Regions from separate parts of the Homo sapiens genome. Here region 2 is linked to region 1. The links come from fine-mapping of genetic effects on gene expression. A gene starts in region 1. The other region holds a variant in brackets. All regions are shown on one strand. Distances are between the middles of the regions.

Region 1 (4,386 bases):
CTCCTAGAGCCAAGACTATGGGATAGCATAACAGCACAATGGCAGAGTGGTTAATTGCATGGGTTTACCCCTGGATAAGTTACTTCTCCATACCTCAGTTTGCTTATCTGCATAATGGGCGTAATAGTACCTACCCAACACCACAGGTATGTTCTGAGGTTTAAATGAGGTAATGCACTGCTTTTTTCTTTTTTGAGATGGAGTCTCACTCTGTCCCCCAAGCTGGAGTGCAGTGGCATGATCTCGGCTCACTGCAACCTCCGCCTCCCAGGTTCGGGCCATTCTCCTGCCTCAGCCTCCTGAGTAACTGGGATTACAGGCATCCGCCATCACGCCCGGCTAATTTTTGTATTTTTAGCAGACACGGTTTTGCCATGTTGGCTAGGCTGGTCTGGAACTCCTGACCTCAGGTGATCCACCTGCCTCGGCCTCCCAAAGTGCTGGGTTTACACGTGTGAGCCACCTCACCAGGCCAAAATGAGGTAATGCATGTAATGAGACCCCATCTCTACAAAAAATATAAGAAATTAGCAGGGCGTGGTGGAATGTGCCTGCAGTCCAGGCTACTCCGGGGGGTTGAGGTGGGGAGGATTGATTGAGCCTGGGGAGGTCGAGGCTGTAGTGAGCCGAGATCATGCCACTGCACTCCAGCCTGGGCAACAGAGTGAGACCCTGTCTCAAAAATAAAATAAAATAAAGTAGAATAAAATAAAAATGGGCCACCTGCACCATCCAATATGGTAACCACTAGCCAGATTGAACAATTTAAAGTAAAATGTATCAAAATCCAATTCAATTAAAACTTCAGTTCCTCAGTCACGCTAACCATCTTTCACATGTAACTAGTGGCTACCAGATATGTCTAACAGGACACCCCAGACAGAAGATGTCTACCATCACAGGAAGTTCTGTGGAGTGGCACTGTAGCTGATGAGGATTTGTGAACATAGCAAGGTACTTGACAAATCTGTGGTCTGGGTCAGGAAAAGAGCTCAGTGTGAAGGCTCACAACTCCTGAGGAGACCCCCAACCCTCCCTCCTGGCTCTCCTTCACAGTCTCCGATGCCCCTAGAAGTAACTAGCACACCTCACATTATAGGGATTAGGGTGAGAAAGGAGACTGGTGAGAAATGGGCAGGATTAGTGGCTCGGGAAAGGGCAGTGGAGGAACCCAATCTCTGTACATTACTGGCCTGGCAGGAAGTGGGTGTAGACAGCAGCTGGGGCTTTGCAGAAATTGAGGCTGGAATGTGAAATGGGGCAGGGCTGGGGTGTGGAGAGTTACCTAACTGTTCCTGAGTACATGCCACGGGCTCCCCAGGCAGAGGGAAATGGCCAGCATTAGCCCTGCCTTCTCCTTCTGGATCCAACTCTGTGAGGAGCCCAGAGCAAGGAAGATGTCCCTGAGAAGATGTCTGATACTGACCAACATCTACTAGCCTAAAGAGACCCTGGGTTAGCCCAGAATAGAGGCCCACTGTAGCTCAGGGGTGGGTACCCAGGATGCCCCAGGAGTAGGGGACCTAGAAAAGCCCTAGGCAGAATGGTGTGGGCTAGCCCAGCTGCTGGGGCCGAGGCTAGCCCGGGGTTGGTTTCAGCCCATGCAGACCCCCTCAAGGCTGAGATGTGGCCATGTGGCCATGTGGCCATGCTGCAGCCTCAAGCTGATGGTTTCTTCAGAGAGAGTCATGGATAACAGGGTCTCTCCCTTCCTGGAGCTGAAGCTTACAGCTCCAGGGGGGACCAGGAGAGCTGAAGGAGAGTATCCCTCAGATGCACACAACCCTTGACAGTCCCTATGTCTCATTAGATCTTCCCTCTAACCACATAAGGAGGGGAAGGCAAACATTAACGGCCCCATTTTATAAATGAAGCAAGTGACGTTCAAAAGATGCCATCTGTCCTCTTCTTGACTGTGGACACAAAAGAAGGACCTGGGCCTCCCACCCCCAACAAAGTGAATGAACTGTTTACTACACTGACCAAGCCTCAGAATCCTACCCTTTCAGAGCTGGGTAGAGGGGGGTGATCTTTGCAGAATCCTAAGTGTGGGAAGACTGGGGCTCAGGGAGAAAGGGTACCCACAAGGAGCGGTCCTCATTCTCCTGAAACTCCCCCTTCTCCAGGGCAGTGGTCACTGGAGGCCTGGGAGGGTCAGCGGGTTCTACAGGCACTCACTCTGGGCTCCAAGGTCACGGGAGGCCAGCCTCCCTTCCTCCCAGCTGCCTCCTCCTGGCAGGGGACCTCTGGCACACGCTCCATGCCCGCCTGCCCCTCCAGATCTGTCCCCAAGCCAAGCAGGGGACCTCACTTAATCCCAATTATGTAATCTGCAATTTAAACAGTTGGCCCATGAGGAGGCGCTTGGAGCCACGCCCAGGAGTGGGGGCAAAAGGACCCAGCTGGGTCAGGGCTGACAAACTAGGCTTGGCCTCTTGCCTATAGTGGCCACCACTCCTCAAGCCCCAGCCAGCACCATGAGCGGCCGAGTTGGAGACCTGAGCCCCAAACAGGCAGAGACCCTGGCCAAGGTGAGAGCCCCTCCCCCTGGAGTTCCGGAAGACCAGGGGAAAGGGGCTGGGGGGTGGAAAGAAGTGGCTGGAATCCTGCCCCACTCAGTTGATTCAGCATGTCCTTGACATTGTCTCTTTGGTGTTACCTCCCAAAGGGTCAAGCCCCACGGTGCCCAGTAACATCAACCCTGTCCCGGGCGGGGGTTGAGGGACTAGCACCACTTCCAGGCAATAACGTGGGTGGTGCCCACCCAAGTCAAGCCTGACTTCTTCTCATCCAGGAGCCAGAACCAGAGAGGTTTACCTGGCAGCCAGGTACCCCCGTTCCTCCCTCCCAGGCACCATAGGTAGGAGCTGAAAGATGCTGCTGGTCTGCCCTTTAACCCCTTCCTCTTTGGGATCCTGAAAGATGACCAGTCTGTAAAAGCCCAAGAGACAGAGCAGAAAGTGTTGTCTTTCAAAGAGCTAAAGGAAGAAGAGGACATATAATTATTAACCATGTTTTAATAGAAGATGGGATGAAAAAAAGCAGATGTTTTGAGGGCTAACACATGGAGGGAACTAAGAATGCATCCAAACTCCAATCCACTTATTCATCCACCCAATTATTTATCCTTTCTTCTTCTTTTTCTTCTTTTTTTTGAGATGGAGTCTCTGTCATCCAGGCTGGAGTGCTGTGGAGCGATCTCAGCTCACTGCAGCCTCTGTCTCCCAGGTTCAAGCAATTCTCCTGCCTCAGCCTCCTGAGTAGCTGGGATTACAGGCATGTGCCACCACACCTGGCTAATTTTTGTATTTTTAGTAGAGATGAGTTTTCACCATGTTGGCCAGGCTGGTCTCAAACTCCTGACCTCAGGTGATCCACCAACCTCAGCCTCCTAAAGTGCTGGGATGACAGGCGTGAGCCACCATACCTGGCTGTTTATCCTTTCTTTCATCCACCCATCCCTCTTCCTACCCACGCAGCCACCTATCCATCTTTCTTTCTCTCAATCACCCACCCATCTCTCCTCTGTCCATTCACTGATTTATCCACCCACCCACTCTCCATCCATCCATCTATCCATTCATCCATTGATTTCTTCTCCCTTTTTCCATCTACCTACCCACTCACCCATCTATTCTTCTTTCTAACCATTTATTCATCCATCTATCCTCCTTCCATTCATCCACCTATCCAGTGATCCATCTGCCCTTCTATTCAACCATTAACCCATCCTTTCATCAATGTGGGCCATTTTGCATGTGGGAGGAAAGGAGAGGTTGTGAAAACAGTCTTTGAGTCTGGAGGCCAAGGCTCAATGTGAGAGAGCCACTTTAACCAGCATCTCTCTTGCCAGTTCCGAGAAAACGTCCAGGATGTGCTTCCTGCCCTGCCCAACCCTGATGATTATTTCCTTCTACGCTGGCTCCGAGGTGAGGGCAGAGGTGGGAGAGGTTGGGATCAGGGGGCATCAAGAGGGGCCTGGTCTCAACTGCTCCAGAGTGTCTCATGGCTCTCAGGGTCCATCCACACAATCTTGCTTCACATGTTCAGGTCCAGAGGAGGGAAGGGGGTAGGGGAGCAAGGTCTCACCCAGGCCCCCAGTGTCCTCCATAGCTCCCACTGGCCAGGAGTAAGACAAGGCATCTTTCCTGTCTCACACCTTCCTTCTGTTTTCCCACAGCTCGGAATTTTGACTTGCAGAAGTCGGAGGCTTTGCTCCGCAAGGTGAGACCTATCCACTCTGGAAATTTATGGAGGGGATTTGTCAGGGGCAATCCATGCCTCAAGCCCCTCCTTCCATCCCTGTTCTCAGGGCACTGGGAGCCCAGTGGGATCTTACCACTCATTTCCCTTTCAGTACATGGAGTTCCGGAAGACCATGGATAT
Region 2 (4,386 bases), 39 kb after region 1:
TGGAATCTGGAAGCCAAAGACATCAAAGACAGTTTTAAGCCACAACACAACATCCCCTCACACCCCCAACACACACAGCTATAAACTTCTGACCTTCTACTATTTGTTTACTGATACTGAAAGTTGAGAGAATATGAAGCTATTTTTTTTCCAAGGACAGAAAAGATAACATGTTGTTTATACTATGGTGTGAGTGACTACAAGCCTTCTCTCTCCTCTATGAAACTCTCAGAAGGGCATATATCAAGGGTTATGTGGGTGGAGGTGAAGGGGTCTCCAGATATCTGTTTAATAAAGATTACATGAGAGGCTCAAAAGTGGCAGGCCAATCTAATGCTCTCATTTTGCACTTGGGGAAACCAAGGCCCAGAAAGGGAAAGGATTTGCCCAAGGTCCCACACAGTAGAAGCCTCTCCAGACAGGATCCAGAAGCCAGGACCCTCCTTGGTTCTGATCAATGGGCACCTTGAGTGGGTCTTTGTGGTCCAGGCCAGTGTCAGTTTCCTCAGAGGCCTTTAGTAGCAAGATGATGTCTTCTATAAGCCTGTTCATGCAAGGCTGTGACTGATTCCCCGGGCCAGCTGCCTCCCTTGCCTCAGAGCCTACCTCCACCCTCCACACCCAAAACAGGGGCCTCCTACCTGCCAAGGACCTTTGATAGGGTAATCAGGGGGCCAGGCAGGTAATCTCACAACTGTCACTCATACTCCCAGGGAGGCATCCAGAAGTTCTTACCTAGAGGTGAGGGATGGAGGTGGTCAGTGCACCAGAGATGGGAGCTAGGGGTGGCATGGACCAGACCTGCATTTAACAAGCAAAGAAACAGAGGCTAACAAAAGGTCAGTGACTTGCCCATGATGTCACAGCCAGCAAGAGCTGGAGCTGGGATTTGAACCTGGGTCTAGGTCACAGTCCAAAGCCTCCATTCCCAGTATACCTCACACTGCCCACTCTAGGCCAAAGCAGTTGGGCTTGTGGTCCAGCCAAGCATGGGGAACTATTGCAGAAATTCAATCTGAGCTATTTTGAGCCTCAGTTTCCTCACCTCCCACACAATTAAGTGAGGTCATGTACCTCAAATGCCAGTTACAGGGTAAGGCATGCAGTACACCTTTGGTGAACATGACTCACCATGAGTGCCCCTGTGGAAGGAACAGGCCTTCTTGGTAGCATCAGATGGGACCTTTAGATTCCAGAGCAACAGCTTGTGGTGCACCCCGTAACTTCCAAAGATTCCTCAGCTTGGGTCTCTGTTCCTACGGGGTGGCAGAGTGGGGAGGGGGTTATCTGTTTCCACTCACATCAGCAGGAGTACCAGTAAAGCTGAAGGCCTGGAAGGAGAGCTCCAGTCTCTTGGGGACCTCTTGGGGCACGAAGTGGGAGTGGAAGTTCTTGCCGTTCACCAGGCACCTGGAAGGCACAGGTTGGAAGGTCATCAGGGTCAGACCCCTGAACTGGGATCTGGTCCTAGCCCCAACACCACCATACACCATCATTTGTTGAGAATTCTGCATGCCAAGCACTGAGCTAAGCGTCACCCCATTCAGTCTACACAGCAGGCTTTGAAGATTCTGGCACTATCCCCATTTCACAGAAGGGCAAACAGAGGCTCCAGAGGTGAAAGGGCCAGTAAAGCATTCTTGCTCCCCTGGCCTAGAAAGGACTACTCAAGAACGCCCAGGGAGCACTATCTGGGCATCCGTGCCTTCCAGCCCTGGAAGGCTCTCAGCCCCTGTCCCAGCCTCCCCAGAGATATCACCCACTGAATTGTACCCATCCTACCCTATCCTCCTCCTCCAGGTTCAGTACCCATGATTCCTGACAAGGCTGTAGTGTGCAGGGGCCACTTCCATATCCTGGCTGGGGCTGATCACACACTCGTCCACATATACCTGTAAAGGCTAATGGGAGCTGCCAACCACAGCAAACTCCATGTGGAGCTCAGAGCCCAGGAAAATGGTGCTGGTGTTGGTGGGGTCTGGATCCTCCAGTATGGCCCCACCCTGAGGTGGAATGAAACCAAGATGGGGAAGACACGAGACCCAGAGATGCTGAAGGGTTTGCCTGAGGCCACACAGCAAGAGG[A/G]GAAGCAGGAAAAGCTAGGGCCAGGTGGCCAGAAGCCCAGTGCCCTCACACTCTGTTACTGGTCCTCCCTCACTTCCTTATTTCTCCAGGGGTAACCTGGCCCAGAACTGGAGGCACAGGAGTCCCTGAGCTAGAAGACCTTCCTCTTGGGACATTACTTCAGCCCAGCCAATGTCCCCCACCTGTGGGAGGCAAAGAACCAGGCCAAAGTCTCATGCTGAAGTCCAGATTTCCAAACGCAGCCAGAGAGTCAGTGACCAAGGAGGTGGGAGGTGAGATGGGAGCTCCTGGGCTGGCAGGGAAATAAGGGGGGGGCGGGGAACATTGCAACTCTGGCATGTGAGGGGGCCCAGAAAACAAACACTAAAGGCCCATGCCAAGTCCCCCAGGGCAGCCCATGAGGAGGAAGAACAGGAGGGAAAAGGCCAGGAATTCCAAATTCCAACCCCCAGGTGAGCATTTCCAGCCCTGCCCCAGGCTCACACCAAGTGGGGGCCAGGAGGTCAGCGCCTGGTGGCCCCTTTCTGGAGGGGCAGCCCCCATCCAACCTACCATTCCCTCTTCCTGCAGACCTCCAGGTGGCAGGGCCCTAGACAGGCTTAGGGGTGCTAGGCATTGCTCACGCCTTGACCACACTGCTGACCCAATGGCGGGAGGCAGCACTGCAGGGCTGCTCTGAACTGGGTGGTGGTGCATAGACCAGGTCAGCAAATAATTCCACTATCTTTCCTGAGATCTGCGAGGATACTTGCTCCTTAGGATGGTGGGAAAAGGCAGGAAAGGTCTACTCCCAGCTTGGGCCCCCACCTCACTGGGTGGTCTTGAAGTCACTTGCCCTGTCTGGGCCTCAATTTCCTGCTAGGCCTCATTCGAGGTCCCTGTCTTGCTTAAATGCCTATTCTGGCAGGGCTCGGTGGCTCACACCTGTAATCCCAGCACTTTGGAAGGCCGAGGTGGGAGGATCGCTTGAGCCCAGGAGCTGGAGACCAGCCTAGGCAACATAGCGAGATCTAGTCTCTGCAAAAAAAAAAAAAAAAAAAAAAAAATCAAAAAATTATCCAGGCACACGCCTGTGGTCCCAGCTACTTGGGAGGCTGAGATGTGAGAATCACTTGAGCCTGAGAGGTAAAGACTACAGTAAGCCATAATTGCACCGCTGCACTCCAGCCTGGGCAACAGAGCGAGACCCTGTCTCAAGGAAAAAAAAAGCCAATTCTGCTTTGAAGAATGATGTGCTGAGTTGCATCTGGTGGTAGACAGTGGGGTCTTCCCTTCTGTGAGCCTCAGTGTCTTCATGTGGAATATGGGAATGATGGTTTTATCTCCTCACGGGGCTGTTGAGGATGCAAGAAACAAATGCACGTAAAGGGCACGTACAAACACACAGATGCTAAATGGCAAATCTGCATCAAATCCTTAGCTACTGAATTCTGCAGAGATACAGGGCTCTGCATCTTTGAGAGAAAAACTCACACTCGGAGAGGCTGTGACTTGCAAATCAGTATGATCTGATTCTACCCTTCTTTCCAGCCCAGACACCCCAGCTCTTCTCCCCCGAATCTCCCGGGTACTCCCTGGCTCTTGGCAGCCTTGTCCTCGTGAGCCTCCAACAGCCCCCTCACCAGTTGGATGAAGCCATAAGCTTTGAATGGGGCAGTGAAGACCTCATAGCCAGGTATGGCAGGGACTGGGGAGGGCAGGCAGGTGCCAAGGCACAGGTGGCAAGCATCCACCTGGGGCTCCTTCCTCACTGCCAGGAGGACATCTGTCTGATTACAGTCCTGCAGGAGGCTGTCTCCTGGCAATCCAGCCCAGGCTAGCTCAGGCGGAGAACCAGACTCAGCGAGAACATGGCCAGCAGAGGGTGCCCAAAAACCTCCCCCAGCATCCCCCACCTTCAATTAATTCCCTGCATCTCCAGAATGGAGCAGGGAGCTGGGCACAGTGACTCACGCTTGCAATCCCCGCATTTTGGGAGGCTAAGGTGGGCAGATCAGTTGAGGTCAGGAATTTAAGACCAGCCTGGCCAACATGGTGAAACCCCGTCTCTACTAAAAATACAAAAATTAGCTGGACATGGTGGCATGCACCTCTAGTCCCAGCTACTTGGGACACTGAGGCAGGAGAACTGCTTGAACCCGGGAGGCAGAGGTTGCAGTAAGACAAGTTTGTGCCACTGCACTCCAGCCTGGGTGACAGAGCGAGACTCAGTCTCAAAATGATAATAATAATAATAAATGGAGCAGGGTAAAATGTTGGGGGGTTGTGGAGATGGTGGTGTTTCCCCCTACAGACAGGATG

Which allele goes with the higher level. Positions count from the first base shown, and alleles are read on the strand shown. Sizes are in standard deviations (SD) of each study's normalised expression.
For the expression in esophagus mucosa of the gene that starts at base 2,419 in region 1, G is the low allele of the variant in region 2 and A is the other (moderate effect, 0.43 SD a copy in GTEx).

What was found. PIP is the estimated chance that this variant, and not a neighbour inherited with it, causes the effect.
Region 2: its variant is the best candidate, but not a certain one, in a credible set for the expression of SEC14L3 in esophagus mucosa (GTEx, PIP 0.87).

What each region holds. Positions count from the first base shown.
Region 1 is chr22:30,470,050-30,474,435 of GRCh38, reverse strand. It overlaps SEC14L3 (SEC14 like lipid binding 3), which reads left to right and starts at 2,419. Exons shown (of 12, transcript NM_174975.5): 1 at 2,419-2,531; 2 at 3,854-3,929; 3 at 4,181-4,224; 4 at 4,358-4,386. The coding sequence starts at 2,478.
Region 2 is chr22:30,430,641-30,435,026 of GRCh38, reverse strand. It overlaps LOC105372990 (a long non-coding RNA gene), which reads right to left and starts at 2,341. Exons shown (of 4, transcript NR_148046.1): 1 at 1,783-2,341; 2 at 1,132-1,410; 3 at 642-735; 4 at 1-6. The variant A/G (reference allele first, on the strand shown) is at 2,086.